Linked DNA regions of Homo sapiens: region 2 is linked to region 1. Evidence: fine-mapped expression QTL. A gene starts in region 1. The other region holds a variant in brackets. All regions are shown on one strand. Distances are between the middles of the regions.

What was found. PIP is the estimated chance that this variant, and not a neighbour inherited with it, causes the effect.
Region 2: its variant is fine-mapped to the expression of WWC1 in unexposed skin (GTEx, PIP above 0.99). The same link has a PIP of 0.9 or more in esophagus mucosa and sun-exposed skin.

Annotation. Positions count from the first base shown.
Region 1 is chr5:168,287,828-168,296,154 of GRCh38, forward strand. It overlaps WWC1 (WW and C2 domain containing 1), which reads left to right and starts at 3,818. Exons shown (of 23, transcript NM_015238.3): 1 at 3,818-4,444. The coding sequence starts at 4,326. RefSeq lists an enhancer at 2,367-2,446 and silencers at 3,591-4,110, 4,211-4,630.
Region 2 is chr5:168,356,798-168,365,124 of GRCh38, forward strand. All of the region lies in intron 1 of WWC1 (WW and C2 domain containing 1), which reads left to right. Among named protein-coding and RNA genes, the nearest start is that of WWC1, 69 kb to the left of the region's middle. RefSeq lists an enhancer at 8,322-8,327. The variant G/C (reference allele first, on the strand shown) is at 4,283.

The sequences.
Region 1 (8,327 bases):
GGAAAAAAAGAGTCCACAGTACATTTATGAACCTCAAATAATGCATGACTCAAGAAAGGGGACATTATTGGCTCCATCATAGAACATAACTGTGCATTCCCCAGGATGTGTGGGAGGGACGGCATGAGGTAGGGAGGTAGAGTCATGGAGCAGGAAGCAAAATCTCAGCAGAGGTTCTCAAAGCCTCAGTTTCCCCTGAAGAATGCAGATGCGAACAGGAAACTGGACTTGCTAACATATCTGTTCCTTTGTTTTATATTTAATTTCTCCTCTTTACCATCTTCATGGAATATGTGACTCTGGCTCTCTGAAACACTCTAAAACACGTGTGGATAACGGCCTTTCTTCCCTGCAGTTGCAGTGGAGAAAAGGGTTCAAGTGCGCATCGTTTTTAAAAACAAGACAGCCTGTCTCAGGCTCAGGTGATTCCTCTGGGCCACCGGGATGTGGCCTTTGTCATTAGAAAGGCTTGGCCTGTGGTCACTTCTGCACTGCCCAACACTGCCCAAGCCTGTCTCCTTCAACTCCACACGCGGGCAGCCAGACGCAGCCCCAGGAGGGTGGCCAGGAGAGGGCTGGGCTTCTTGTCTTCAGTTCGGATTCCTGCAGTTCAGTCACCTGTAGAGTAACGTCCAATTCAGCCTATCATGTGGCTGAGCCGGTTTTACCTTTAATCTCTTTCACGTTTGCCCTCAGCCTCGCAGAATGTCCGGGATGATTCACGCGCCATCACATGGGGCAGGCAGTCATCTGTTTTATTACCTCACCCTGCTTGCCGCTTCTGCGAGATAACCTGGGATTCTTTCGTTGGGGGTGGATGGGAGGTAAAAAGAGCGAACAGACCTAGGCCTTAATTCAGGAGTCAATTCCTGCTCTGGTCTCTCTTTCTTGCTTCCCAGGCCAGGTCAAAAGGTCCAAAGAAGCAAGCCATTTGGAAAATGCCAGGGTTTGGGTGGCTGGACTAAAACGAAAGTGGGACTTGGCAGTCTAAAAGGTGTTTTCTCTTCACAATCAATGCCAACCAGTAAAAAGGCTTGGTTGAAAAATAAGGCCAAAAAAAAAAAAATCAGCAATTAGGAGGACTGTTGCAAGCAAGCAGGCATAATTTTCAGAAGGGGAAAGGACGTGGATTTGTGTTTTGAACAGAAAATACTTCAAATGGTCCACATTTCATAGAGGTGTGTCTGCTGCCAGGCACGGTGCTCCGAATGCACCGCACCACAGCCCCTGAGATGAAGGCGTGCTGCTGAGTGCCAAGCCCTCACATTTCTCCTCCTGCTTTGCCCTAACCACAAGCCCAAAGGAGTCCATATTGTTATGTGATTTTTTTTCAAATCAAAGACTGAGACTTCAGTGAAGCAAGCTGCCCAAGGTCACACAGCTAGAAAACCGGGTGGGCTTGGGACCCAAACAGCCTGATTCTAGAGCTCTTGCTTCTCAACCAAAAAACTATGAAGCAAACATCAACAGAGATGAACATTTGTCAGTATCAGTCATGTTCCACATCCCAACCATGGGGAAGTTCTGAGGCTGCAGAGTGATTTAAAAAAGAAAGAAAGTCTCCAATCTGGGTGACAGAGCGAGACTCCGTCTCAAAAATAAAAAGAAAGAAAGAAAGAAAGTCAGCCAGGCAAGGTGGCTCATGTCTGTAAGCCCAGCACTTTGGGAGGCTGAGGTGGGCGGATCACCTGAGGTCAGGAGTTCGAGACCAGCCTGGCCAATATGGTGAAACTCCAGCTCTACTGAAAAATACAAAAATTAGCTGGGCGTGGTGGCGCAGGCCTGTAATCCCAGCTACTCTGGAAGCTGAGGCAGGAGAATTGCTTGAATCTGGGAGGCAGAGGTTGTAGTGAGCCGAGATCATGCCACTGCACTCCAGCCTGGGGGATGGGGGGAGACTCCATCTCAAAAAAAGAAAAAAAGAAAGTATAGGTTAATAACTGAGAACACTGCACTAGAGTCAGACCTAGTCTGTCTTATGAGCTCTGTATCCCAGGCCAACAACAAAGCATCTTGGAGCCTCATCTGTAAAATGGGTATAATAAATAGACTTTCCTATGCCAGAGGGTTGTTATGAAGATTGAGATCATGTATTCAAAGAACCTAGCACCAGGTTGGCTTTGCTTTGGGGCTACTGCTCTAATCAATAGTGGGTTTTTATGTAGTAAAGGCTTGACCCAAACAGAGGAAGTGTAGAGGGCTGTGGGAATTCCCCCATAAAGGAATGGGGAATTCCAACTTTTGGGTGTTGAGGGCCAGTCTGAGGCTGGTGTCCCTGGACTCTGGTGCCTGGTATTTATGGAATGAAGGAGGGCCAAGCACTGAGCCCCGAGGCCTGGCCTCAGGGAAGGAATTAACTATGAAGAAGGCATTTGGAGGCGAGGCTCACTCTGGTGGGTCTTTTCTGTCAAGAGGAGATGAGACCACAAACATGATTCCCTCTCTGGCTCAGCAACACCCTGGTCCATACAGCACAGGGTGCTGGTTCTTCTGGAAGACCGTGGGGCTCAGGCAAGAGAAGACACCCAACTGGGCTTCATTCGACCAGTCCAGCTTCCTGCCATATGCCGAGGGCAAAAAAGGGTTAAATTCCCACTCAGTACACAGATGTAAGAGGAGATGGGGAAGTGAACAGCCAGTTGATCATTCACTCAATCATGCTAGCTTGCTTTTTGTATTTAATGCTACATTTTAAATTTATTTATTTATTTATTTGAGACAGAGTCTCGCTTTGTTGCCCAGGCTGGAGTGCAGTGGTGCGATCTTGGCTCACTGCAACCTCCACCTCCCAGGTTGAAGTGATTCTCATGCCTCAGCCTCCCGAGTAGCTGGGACTACGGGCGTGCACCACCACGCCCAGCTAATTTATTATTATTATTTTTTAGTAGAGATGGGGTTCACTATGTTGGCCAGGCTGGTCTGAAATCCTGACCTCAGGTAATCTGTCTGCCTCACCCTCCCAAAGTGCTGGGATTACAGGCGTGAGCCACCGCACCCACTAATTCTACATTTTTAATTTCTCAAGAAACATTGTGTCTCTGATTGTTTTATTCTCTTGAACATTTTTCAAGATGGAATTTTGCTTTGCTTACTTTCTTCTTTTTCATAGCCCCACTTCTCCCAAATCCATAACACACCTACCTCAAAGTATCACAGGAAAGAAAGCCTGTGAAGCTGCTAGCCACAGCCTGTCACAAGTAAGTCCTCAATTTAGCTAACAATAACAATGGCATTACTATTACTTTTACAAAGTGTTTTCCCTGACACCCTCTGGAAGTCCTCCCAGGAAAGCGGATCCACAGCGCTCCTAATTTTAGGGACCCTGAGGGGAGCCAGCTACATTTCCAAATGGTGGGGAAGGGTGGAGGGTGGGCGAAACGTCGTAGGGAGAGTTGAATAGAAGGAGACAGATGGTGCCTGTGTTGGGGGAAGGGACCAGAGATCCTGGAAAACTTATGTTTCCCAATTCGCAAGAATGTTTCCATTTAACCACTTCTTGCCTGACTCCTGATTCTACACCACAGAAAAGCAGGGAGTTTTTAAGATTTGGGGCCACCTGTGCCGAGAGCCTGGCTACTCCGGGTGGAGAGAGACAGGAGCGTTTTAAGTACAGGCAGAGCGGTTTTTGGCCCAGCCCCCTAGGTCTGGGACGCAGGTGAGGGGCGGTCTCTCCTTCCCCTGGCAGGGGCAGCGTAAGGGTGGCCGGCGGCTGGGACTGTCCCACGAGGGGGCGCGTCTCGGGCCCTAGGACCCGCCCTCGAGGCGCTGCGCGCGGGGAGGGGACCCGGGAACCCAGGCGCCCGGCGCTCCGCCTCCCGTTTCCGGGGCAGCGCGGTTACCTGCACCGCCCGAGCCGCACCTGGCGGAGGCAGAAGTCACAAACCCGGCGAGCTCAGAGCGGTGGAGCGGAGAGGAGGGACGGCACCCGGCTGCAGGGAGGAGGGAGGCGGCAGCGGCAGCGGCGGCGTGGAGGGCGCAGCGCGCCGCGCGGCGGAGGAGGGCAGACGGCGGCGGCGGCGGCGCTCGGCTCGCTCTGCCCGGCCGGCTGGGCGCGCACCCGGGCTCGCACCGCGCCGCTGCGGACGCACATGGCAGCGTGAGAGGCCGGCGGCGGGAGGAGCGGGCGGCGCCGGGTCGGGGCTGCAGGGCCGCATGGACAGCGGCGCCACCCCGGCCGGCCCCTACTAGGGCCCCCCATCTGCGGGCGCCACCCCCCGGATCATGGTGCCTCGGCGGCCGCCCGGGCTAAGAGCGGCCGGCTGGAGCCGCTGAGCCCCCGCTGCGGCCGGGAGCTGCATGGGGGAGCGCCGGCAGCGCTTGGGAAGATGCCCCGGCCGGAGCTGCCCCTGCCGGAGGGCTGGGAGGAGGCGCGCGACTTCGACGGCAAGGTCTACTACATAGACCACACGAACCGCACCACCAGCTGGATCGACCCGCGGGACAGGTAGGACCCTGGAACCCTCCTCCGTGCCCCCACACCCCCGCCTGGGCCCCCACCTGCCCCTGGAGCCGCCGGCCGGGACTGGGAGGGGGCAGGGGAGCTCTGCGTGCCTCTTGAGCTCTCTTCAGTTCGCCACCCCCTGCTCCCCCCAACCTTCTGGAGCGCTGCTCCCGCCTCAGTGGGCCACCGAGAGGAGGCGCCTGCCGGGGAGCTGGCCCAGGCTGCCCCACCGCCATCCCCAGTTGGAGGACTTAGGCCCCAGCCGGCACCTGCCCGGAGTTTTGACCTTAAGCTCTAGCCCCGCCCGCCCCCTTTAGGAAGAGAGGTCGGGCGGGGGCGGGGGTTGGGGGAGCGACCTAGCCGGGTGAAGCCGGGTCTTCCCGGGGAGGCTTCCACCCAGCGTGGGGGGTGGGCGGATGGGGATGGGGAAGTGTCCGGTTAGAGGGGGTGGTCAAGACCCCAGGATTCCGTGGGAGACCACTGGAGAGAGGGCACTCGGCGCAGAGGAAGGCAACCTGAGGTGTGCTTTTTGACAGGTGCCTTGGAAGCTGCTGAGAACAGCACAGGGGCAGCCAGGGGGCCCTGGAACCCGAGGGTGGGGAGGAAGTGAAGAAGCGGGGGAGGGCAGATGAGGGAGACTGGTTATCCAGGAATCTGGCAGCAACTTGGAAGCTGTTAGGATGGAGATGGAGGTGAGAGGCCTCCCGGAAAGCCTTGCCCCTCGCCTCTTTCTCCTCTCTTTCTTCCCTGATCGGGGAAGGGGGCGGCGAGGCTCCTCAGCCCTGCACCAGCGGGACCTGACCTTGGTGGGTACCAGGCCGCTGTAGGTTGAGATAATGTGCAGAGGCAGATGGAGCCTGAGATAGCTCGGTGTGGCTCTTACCTCTCCAGACTTTCTCCTGGTTGTTTGGCATTTCTTTGCTCACATGCTGCACACACACACATACATTCACCCTCTCCATGTATGTCCTAGAGTCCCCGGACCACGATGTTGTTGACACGGTCTGTGGGCAGAGTGTCTTGGGGAATGCGGACTTTAAACCTTGTCTGTGACCTTGGGGGTCAGGTCCCTGTAAAGCAACCAAGGTGAATTTCTTGGACTCTTCATCTTGTGTGGTGGGGGTGGAGGTGTCCCAGAAGTGTATGTAGCAAGATGTGGGTCAAAAAAAGAATATAAGCGGAAAGAAAATGAGAGTTGAGATTCTCGGTAGTTTCTGGGAGCACTTACTTTCATTCATTCATTCATTCGTTCATTCAGCGCTTCCTGGATGCCTCCTCTACACTCAGCACCATGCTGAATGTCTCATGAATGTAATCTGGAAGGTAAATATTTAGTGCTAGAGAGCATCTCTTAGGCAAGCTGCTTCAACCTCTGAGCCTCAGTTTCCCTGTTTGTCAGATGGGGGAGCCCACCATTTCCCTGAATTTAAAAAGTTTGCTTGGAAGGGAATATTGGGATGCTTAAAACTTGGAAGGGACGTACATCAGCGCCCAACTCCCATTTGAAACATAAGAGAAAATTTGAAGCCCAGAGGTGTGATTTGCTCAAGTATTTTGATTTTTCTGCCATTCTGCGTACCAGTTCTTCACCAGCTCTGAAGTTCTAACCTGCAAACTTGTCACCCTGACACACTGCTTCCCCACCCTTACTCGGGTCAGTTGCCAGCTCTGCTACTGTGTTGGTGAACTTGGCAGCACCTTTTCTCTTGTCCTTTTCTCAGAACAGACACAAGTTCAAACATATGTGACCTGCCCCAATTTAGGTCCCTGTAGTTTACGGAGGCCTGTGTGCTGTTAGCAGGTGGACGTCCTGTTGGAGGGAAAGGACCGCCCCTGCCAACACTGATAATCATGCATCTGGGGACTTCTAATACAGCAATAGGAGGCCCCTCTCAACAGTAATTCTTTACCCTTGGAAAAGGGTAAGTAAGTAGCTTCTATGAAGAACTGATTGGCTGGAGCACAATCTCCCAAATTTTAGTGTTACATGGACCACCTCCATGATTTTTTTTTGCTATATCCACCTGTGCTATTGCTTACTTACTCCTTGACTTTAGATCAACTCACTTTAAAAATATGTGTACCATTTTCACAAATGGGAAACTAGTTATATCTATTGTCATACAGGGGAAACAAAAAAGATAGGCAAACAAAAAAAACAAAAAACCAGGGTTAGTATATTTTAGCTAGGTACTGTGGCCAGCCTAAGGCCACAGCACCTCACCTGCCCAGCCTTTGTTTTTAAGCAGATTGGCAAGCCATGGAGAGGCGGCAGAAACATAGTGGCACTTAGGTGAGCAGCTCACCTTCTTCATCTTGTGTCATTGGTTTTTTTGTTTGCTTTTGGTTTTTTTGTTTATTTGTTTTTGTTTTTTGGAGACAGAGTCTCGCTCTGTCGCCCAGGCTGGAGTCCAGTGGTGCGATCTTGGCTCACTGCAAGTCTGCCTCCTGGGTTCAAGCGATTCTCCTGCCTCAACCTCCCGAGTAGCTGGGACTACAGGTGCACGCCACCACATCCAGCCAATTTTTTGTATTTTAGTAGAGATGGGGTTTCACTGTGTTGCCCAGGCTAGTCTTGAACTCCTGAGCTCAGGCAATCCGCCCACCTCAGCCTCCCAAAGTGCTAGGATTACAGGCGTGAGCCACCACGCTTGGCCTTGGGTCACTGGTTTATAAACTTCATCTCTGTACCTCCTTGTCATCCCACCTGGACTGGGGTGGTATTGGGCCCCTGAACTTGGGGTCCTGAGGGGGTCTCATGTCAACTCTGGGGGTCACTATTGTGGTCCAGCTTTGTATGTTTTGGAAAAGTGCTAATTGGAGGATAGCCACTTGTGGTTTTCTGGAATTTCCCTCCGGCATACCCCATTTTTGCCTTTTAGTTCTGTCTGTGTGGCCTTGGGCAAATCACTTGACCTCTCTGAGGTTTGAGTGCTTGAGAAGTGGGTTGGTTAGATGGTCTTCAAGGGCCTGCCAGCTCTTAAATATTATTTCAAACCCTTCTGCCGCTCTTACCTCTCCAGACTCCATGAGAGGAGAAGGGGGAACAGGGATGGGCTATGAGAAAAAGGAAGAAGAAATTTAACAAAGCTGAAAAGAGCCAAACTTATTCCGGGGGGTGGTGGGTTGGGGAGAAAAAATTCTGCCAAGGTAGTTATATCCCTGCAATTAATTAATGCTGTGAGACAAAAAATTGCACTAAAAATTTCTACTCCGTGTGTGTGTGTGTGTGTGTGTGTGTGTGTGTGTGTTTATTTGCCTTGGATTTTTCCTTACCTGAATCATGGAGATGCCCACCCATTCCCCTGAATTTAAAAGAAGTAAGTCAAATGGTCCTTCAGTCAGAAAAGTGATTTCTTAGCCACCAAGGACAAAATAGCGTCTCTGGTTACCAACCCTAAAGAATGTCTTGGCACATTCCTCCCTCTGGGGCTGAGCTGTTTTGTGTGCTGGCCGGCCAGGAGCTGCTGGGGGTAGGGAATCCAGTTTTCAGCTTCCCCTTTCACCAGGGGGTTGGAAGAGCAGCCAAGCAGCCAGCCTTGCCAACTCTCTCCCCTTCTCACCCAGGGGAAGACTGGGAGGCCGAAATTCCTGAGGATGGTTGTCCCAACAACCGGAGAGGGTCCAGTGGGCAGCTTGGGTCCTGCCCACTGGGCCAAAGGCTCCAGCAGCACCACAGGCTTTTCCTGAGTCAAGGCCAGCCTGGGAAGGTGACAGGCCCTTCGGGAATCAGGTGCTGTGGATCAGGTCTGAACAGCACCTTGGAGCCGTGCTCCTTTTGCGGAGTAACTCTGGGTGCTTTTGTGAGCTCTAGCGAAGGGGCCAGCGTCCTGTGTATTTCACTTCGTGGTATGCAAAACAAATGCACCGATTGTTCTCGGAGGAA
Region 2 (8,327 bases), 69 kb after region 1:
CTTGTCGCGCTTCTCCAGTTACCAGCTGGGAATAAGGGAAGCCCATGGAGACGGTTCCTGGTGGAGGAGATGGAGCAGTGGGCCAAGGCTCAGGTGGCTCATATCCAATAATCCTGGCCCTACCTAGGGCCCTGGGAGCCCTGTCAGTTGTGGGAAGTCTCTGAGTGTCATCTGTAAAACAGGGAAATAATCATGATGGTCATGATGCCACTGTTGTGACGGTTATTTGAGTATCAAATAAGGTCAAGAATCCAAAAGCACCTTGAGGACCTTAAATGTTTCTTCAATCACAAGTTTCTCTTTGTTGGGACAAGCAAAATTTGGAAAGTAGAGGGCCTAGCTGTGAACCCTGCTGGGAATTCCAATGAGATCTTTCTTTCTTTGTTCTTTTGTGAGTTCATTTATTCATTCAGTGAACATTCATTTGGTGCCCACTCATAAGATGCTGAGGTTACAACTGTTAATAAGATATTAAGATACTGTCTTTTTCTTCCTCTTTCTCTCTTACACACACACACACACACACACACACACACTTTTTGGGCCAACTGGAAATTCATACATTCTCCCCAGCACTGGAGCTCAAAGCGTCTGCCAACCTGTGGGTTTCTTTTCCGTGTGGTTCACCATCTGGAGTGGCAACCTGCCTTCTGTGTGTGTGTGTGTGTGTGTGTGTGTGTGTGTGTGTGTGTGTGTGCGCGCGCGCACGCATGCACGTGCGTGCATGCCAGGGTATTGTGTTCCCTTTCTGTGCTTGAGAGGCTGAATGAACAAGAGAAGAGCAAAGGCAAAGAGGACAATGCCCAGAAGTCATCCTCGCAGTATGAATGAATAATTCATATTGTATCTGCCTCTTTCTAGGGCTTCCCAAAATAGCTGTTTTAATTGCTTATTTGTTTCACTGCTGACTTTATTCCAGCCGCCTTCAGCTCAGAACACTTCGGTGTTTCATGTTGACTTGCAGGTAGGGCTTCCCTTCAGGGAATAACATTCTATTTATTTTCTTCTTTAAAAAGAAATGATGGGAGAAAAACCCATAAAGCAAGTCATACTTTTCAGAGGCGAAAACTGTTTCTTTTCCACTGTTGTGCAGAGCTCCTTTGTAATCAGTTACTGTAGGCCTCTGTGGTCCTAAAAACCAAAGAAATAGCAGTCGAGTTGCAGACAAGGCGAGCTTCTGGCTAGAGCAGCCTGCTCACTGTGATGTGTTCACTTGGGAATCTGAGTGTGCAAACACTTGGGAATCCACAGACTTGGGACCCTTGCATGTGGTGGGCCATGCTGGCTTGTGGTTTTCCAGACATGTCAGCTGCAGCATCCGGAACAGGTCTCAGGAAGGCCCTGTCTATCTGGGTGGGTGACCTGGGGAAACAGTGTCATGTCTCCCTGGGGCCCTGATAGGACACCTTTGGTAGGCAATGCACAGCTTAGTTTAGAAAAGGCTTCATACAGTGGTCCTGGAGGGATGACTTATTGTATACAATAAGGAGATGTCAGGAGGTGTGTTCAGAGAATGAATGAGGATGGGCAAGGAGAGCTCGGTGAGTGTCAGGGAACCTGAGTGTCCAGAAGGATCCACTCCTCTGGCTGCGTGACCCCAAACACATCCTTGGGACACAGTCATGGAAACTCAGTGCTGAAAGGTCCTGTAGCCATCACTTTGTCATCTCATGGTAGGGATGGGAAAACAGCAGCCCAGGGGCTGGGAAGGTGCCCACAGCCACTCAGTAGTATAGCTGAGGATTGATACCAGTTGGATTTGCCTCTCAACTAGCTGAGTGTCCTTGGATGAACCAGTTAACCTCTCTGTGCCTCAGTTTCTACATCTATAAAATGGAGCTAATAATACTGTGTATAAGATTGTTTTAAATAAGCTAATATGTTGCATTGAATTGACGATTTTCTTTTTTCTTACAACTTTATTGAGGAATTTTTGAAGTCTACTAAATGGTATGTGTTTAAACAATTTTATGAGCTTTGACACGCATATATATATATATATGTACACATACATACATGTATACGTACACATGTAGGAACTCCTCATCATAATCAGTATAACAAACCTTATCTCCAAAACTTTTCTTGTGCCCCTCTGTAATCCTCTCCCTCTAACCCTCCTCCCCAGGCAACCACTGACCTGCTTTCTGCCCCTGTAGTTAATTTGTTTTTTCTAGAATTTCATATAAATGGAATCACACAATATATGGTTTTTGTTGTTGTTGGTGGTGGTGGGGTGTGTGTGTGTGTGTGTGTGTGTGTGTGTGTGTGTGTTCGAGACAGACTCTCACTCTGTCACCCAGGCTGGAGTGCAGTGGCACGATCTGGGTTCACTGCAACCTCTACTTCCTCAGCTCCAAGGATCCTCTCACCTCCACCTCCCAAGTAGCTGGGACTACAGGTACGCGCCACCATGTCTGGCTAATTTTTTTGTATTGGAGAGACAGGGTTCCACCATGTTGCCCGGGCTAGTGTTGCACTCCTGAGCTCAGGTGATCCACCCACCTCAACGTCCCCAAGTGCTGGGATTAGAGGCGTGAGCCACCACGTCTGGCCTATACACTATAGAGTTTTTTACCTAATATGTGTCTGAAATTAATCTTCATTACTGCATATTTTAATAGTTTATTCCTTTTTATTGCTGAGTAGTATTCTGTTGTTTGGCTGTACCACAGTTGTCTATCCATTTACCTATTGATGGACATATGGATTGTTTCTAGCTTGGGGTTTTTATAAATAAAGATAATATTGATTTTAAGAAGCACCATTATTGTATGTGCCATAAGAAAGGGAAATTGTGCCAATTAAACTATGTCCCAATGTTTTTATGTAATTAGAATGCTTATTTTATATTTGTTGAAATACATTTTTCAAGGTTAGTTTTTTTTGTTTTTTCTTTTTTAACTCACATATCACTTGTATGTGTAAAAAACCCACAAAGGAATATATGAGAAAAATAAAACTCTGGTATTCCTACAGTGTCTTCCCATTCAGAATCCAGTTCTTCGGAGTAGCTTTTTAGCTGAGTTATTAATGTCTGTGCTTTTAATATTGTCCTTTGTGCCCTTAAGAGTGTTAGTCATACAGCCTTGTTATAAAGACCCACAAAAAGGGACTCAAAGCTTGGCAATTCTGTAGAGGTAGCCAGCTTAAGAGTCCTGCTTTGGGAATGTTGCTAAACAGGTCTGTTGCATACCTTCTCCACACCTTTCCACAACCATTTGGTTCCTAGGGGTTAAAAGTGCTTACAACTTTATTGAGGAATTTTTGAATTCCTCAATGTCTTGTCTGTGGGATTTTTATCCCAAGCCTGTAGCACCCGTTCCACCAGTGGCAGTGCTGATGCCTTTGATATATGTGCACACACAGGCAGTGACAGCTCCATCAGGACTGCAGCCTAGGTGATATCAGTTGTAAGATGTCAGTAGTAGTAGCATACATCAGAGTTTCAGAAAATGCTGAATGTGTTTAAAAATGTGCATCTTTTGGTGAAATAGGGTCTATGTAAGGGACATTGGATAGTGCCTGGCATTTTGCAAATACTCAATGAAATTTTGCTTTTATTATTATTATTGCTATTACTATTAAGCCTCAGTTTCCTGTTGGTGAAATTGGGGTGATTGTACCTGCCTCACAGAAATATTGTTAGAATAAAGGAAGCGATCTATTTTACATGGAGCATATGGTCCTGTGCCTAGTGCTTCACTGGCCTTAAGTGGAAGCTGCCCTGACCTTTGGGACAGGTTGGCCAGGTATTAGACTAAAGCTGCAGAGGGTGCCTTAGGGGTGTTAAATTCTAGCTTCCTCTGTTTTGCAGGTGGGAAAGACCAAGAGAAAGGGTTAAGGTCCAGCAACAGGAGTGCCTTGCCCAAGGGCATCGTCAGGCTTCAAACCCAGATCTCATCATTCTTCTTCCAGTGCTCTGTCTAAACCATGCAGTCTTGGGAGGGGCCCCAAGTCAGACAGGATCTCAGAAAAGTCTTCACGGTCAATTCCATTTCTAGAAGGACCAGCTCCTCAAGCTGTGTGGTAAGGGTCAGAGCTCAAGGAGCAGAAGATTCTGGAATGGCCAAATTCCAGGACAGGGTGAGCTGCTGCCTCTGCAGTTACTGCTGATGAGGCTTCTAGACAGCCCAGCACCTGGGAAGAGCCCTTGGGAACCCAGCTCATGAGGCTGGAAGGAATAAGGCTGGGAGTTGAGTGTCCCCAGAGTCCTAAATACAGAAAGGAGTAGGGCTGCAGGCCTGCCTGGGGTTGTGTGCCAGGTGCTGTGTTGAGTCTT[G/C]TCCGTGCATGAATGAATGCAAGAACCTGGGAAGCAGGTTTTCTTGTCTGCTCTATACCTGCAGGAAAACTGAGGCTCAGACCTGGGGGAAGGAATGGACTGAGATTACACAGCTAGGAAGGATGGAACTGGGAGTCCTCTCTGGTTCTGTTGGCTTTTTCTTTAGGGCACAGAGCTTCCATAGCCTAACTCATAATTCAGGAATGAGGATGAAGCTGGGGTTGAGCAGGGTGAGGAGCAAAAAGATATTCCAGGGTCTTCATTCTACTGTGGTGTGGGGCTTTTAGGAAATTACCTTCCAAGTAGGTAATGAGAAAAATGAAGAGCCCACCTCCCAACCTCGTCTCTCCATGAATGGGAGCTTCATAGTTCTCCATCTTGGTTCCTACCCAATGATCAGTCTCATTCGGTATAATAGGGTTAGTTAGCCTGGGAAAATGCTATCAATACCTATTTCTTGGAGGCTGTTCAGATGCTTATTGAATTTCAAATGGAGCCAAGCCCAGCACCAAGCTGATTTGATCTCCTGGCATTATGTGATGCAGGGCTGGAGTTGGTCCCCAGGTCCCCTGGGTCCTTGGGTGGCTCCAGGCAAGTCTTTTATCTCTGTCCCTCAGTTTCCTCATTGGTAAAGAAAGGGAGTTGTTTTGTTGGGTTTCTTTTAATTTTAACATTCTCTACGTTGGGGGCCTCATTTGGGCAGCAGTGTGAAAAATAAATCACTGGGTGCGGTGGCTCACGCCTGTAATCCCAGCACTTTGGGAGGCTGAAGTAGGTGGATCACATGAGGTCAGGAGTTTGAGACCAGCCTGGCCAACATGGTGAAACCCCATCTCTACTAAAAATAGAAAAAATTAGCCGGGCATGGTGGCAGGCGCCTGTGGTCCCAGCTACTTGGGAGGCTGAGGCAGGAGAATCGCTTGAACCCGGGAGGCAGAGGTTGCAGTGAGCCTAGACCGTGCCAATGCTCTCCAGCCTGGGCAACAAGAGTGAAACTCCATCTCAAAAGATAAATAAATAAATAAATGAAAAACGAATCACTCACATTTATCAAGCACTCACTGTGTACTCATGTGCTGTTTCATGCATTATCTCATGTAAGCTTCAAGGAGCACTGTGGGGCAGGTCTGAATGGTACCTGCCTGAAAGGGCTGTTGTGAAGGCCAGCTGAGTAAATATATAAATACATTAACTGCTTGGAACAGTTGCTGGTGCATAGTGAGTGCTCAGTATATGTGTTCTTATTTTTCCTGTTTTGCAAATGTGACAACTGAGCCACATAGAGTTTACATATCTTGTCCAAGGTCACACAGCTAGAAAATGACAGAGCCTGGATTCAAAGCCAGTGAGTCTGGCTCCAGAGCCCTCTGCTCTTAACCAAGAGGCAGGAGTGACACATTAGAAAGCAATGGGGACAAAGTGCATCCAGACAGTGCCTGTCCCCAAAGGTGTGCTAAGTCCGTTTTTAAAATATAGCACTGTAGTAGATCAACAAACATATCTTCAGGCTGAATTTGGCCCTCAGGTTGTCCGTTGGCTTTACCTACTCTAATCCATGATTTGGTTCTCAGAACTGAAATCTTAAACCCAACAGGCAGCACACAGAGGGGATTAGCAGCCTGGATTCACCCCATGTCAGTGAGTGGGAACAGATAAGCATAGAGACTCAAGATGGAGGTGAAGGAAGGGGATGGACCCAAAGGGCACAGGTGTGTGATCTCACCAACCCAGCAGGGCAGAGGGAAGACAGAATCCAAGATTTGGCAGTGGGGAGGTGAGCCACTGGTTTGTGGGGGCCTAGTCTGAAGGTAGGGAGGGTTTGGGGTGGAGGAACCGTCTGGAATCTCCCCTCCAGCCCTCCCTCCTCTTCTTTTTTCTATAAAAGAATTTTAGGATGGGAATAACTAGGCCAAGAAAACTTCTGGGTAAGCCAGCCCAAACAGAGTAGGGAAACAAGGAGATCTAAGGGTGGAAAAGCCAGAATTTTGAGACAGGTGTTCGGAGGGTAGAGAACAAGAGGAAGGGAAGTGTTTACGAGAAGAAGAACTTGGGAATTCCAGGTATAAATGCCTCCTCCTTCAGAGAGCAGATTTTGAGAACCAAATCCAATTCAGCTACTGTCTCCTACCTTCTCCCATTTAACTTTCTAAAAAGAGAGAGGAAGCCAGGTGTGGTGGCTCACACCTGTAATCCCAGAATTTTGGGAGGCCGAGGCAGGAGGATCACTTGAGGTCAGGAGTTTGAGACCAGACTGACAAACATGGGGAAATCCCGCCTCTACTAAAAGTACAAAAATTAGCCCGGCATGGTGGCGGGCACCTGTAGTCCCAGCTACTCAGGAGGCTGAGGCAGGAAAATCACTTGAACCCTGGGAGGTAGAGATTGCAGTGAGCTTAGATCACGCCACTGTACTCCAGCCTGGGTGACAGAGCCAGACTCTGTCTCAAAAAAAAAAAAAAAAAAAAAAAGATGGTTTAAGCAGTCCCAGCTCCTCCAGGAAGGGAGGTGATAGAATACAGTGCAAGGTTTATTAGCTGTGCAAGCCAGGACAATTATTTTGCTTCAGTTTCCCCATCATGAAAATCGGGGTATAAAACCTAACTCATCCTAACAGCCAATGTAGATTGAACCCTGAATGCCATGTGGTCAGCACAGCCCATTTTAACGCAGCGGTGACTTTGAGCACCCCCATCTTATGGATGAGGAAACAAAGCCACACAGGTTAGAGTTCATGCCCAAGGGGACAGAGCTAATGAGTGACAGTGCCTGCATTGGGACCCAGATGGCTGACTCCAGACTTGTGAGTTTTAACCACCACCGTGTATCTCTTAGGGTGAAGACTGATAATGGTGGGTGTGGTGATGGTGGTGATGATAGCTCACGTGTTAAGGATTTGAGATAAAGGGTGATGTGATTCTTCACAACGCGCAGAACTCTCTGATTATGTTTGCAACCCACATTTATCAAGGGCTTGTCTTGTGCCAGTCCCGGCACTAGATACTGTATAGGTTATCTCATTTAATCCCCACAACACCCTTATGAGAGTGGGCCTTCCTGTGTAAGTTTCACAGAGAAGAAAACTCCTCTCAAGCAGGTTACATAACCCACCTACAGTTCTGGAAGAGGTGGAGCCTGGGTTTCAGCCTCGCATCCCATTCCTGAGCCTTTGTGGGTAACATCTACCCTGCCTCCTCCTTAACCATGGAGCTGACCACAGCTCTTTCCTCCTCCCCTCCCCAGCCCTCCCTGACTACACCCCATTGCTGCATTCTCTCCCTGCCCATGGCCCGTTGGCCTTTCGCGTCTATACTGCTGACGTAGCACCTTATTAAATATCCCTGCATCCTCTAATTACCTGTGGCTCAGGCCGCGGGTAGCGTTACAGCCACATACACTCCCATGGAATGTTGTGGGGATGACTCCCTGCCTGTTTGGAGTGTGAGTCTTGTTCCCCGGCCAGACCCTCTGCCCCTGGAAGCAGAAACATGGCTTCTTCAAGCGTCTGAGCCCTCGTAGTGCCTAGCATGGGCCTGGAGTGCCATACTCACTTGATAAATGCTTGTTGCTTGGTGGATTGATTGAAATGAGGGTGGAAGGATGAGAGTGGAGGGTGAGGCAGAGAGTGTCTCTGGGTCACCCTCCAGCTCAACACAAGGGCAGTGGTCAGAGGAATAATCCAAAGTGCATACCCAGGCCCCAGAGCCGCCAAAGCTGACCTCCGCCTCCACTTCACCTGAATAGCATGGATCTCTCTGAAATGGCCCTCTTGATTTGCTTCTGGCTGGGGTGCATCTCGCCCTCTAGACTGTAAGGGCAGGGCCCTATCTGTCTCTTTCCTCTGTAGCTGGTGTTAACGAAGGCTCTGCTGTGTGTCATGTGCTCAGCTCTCCTAACAAACTTGAGAGATGGTTATTTTTATCATGCCCAGATTTGTTAGACAATGAGTAAAAGAGTCTGAACCAAACTGAATTAAAGGAAGAAGGACTTCAAACGTTGCCTTTCTTCCTGTTCATTCTGGCCTCCCCGGAGCTAAAGGTGAAGGGAC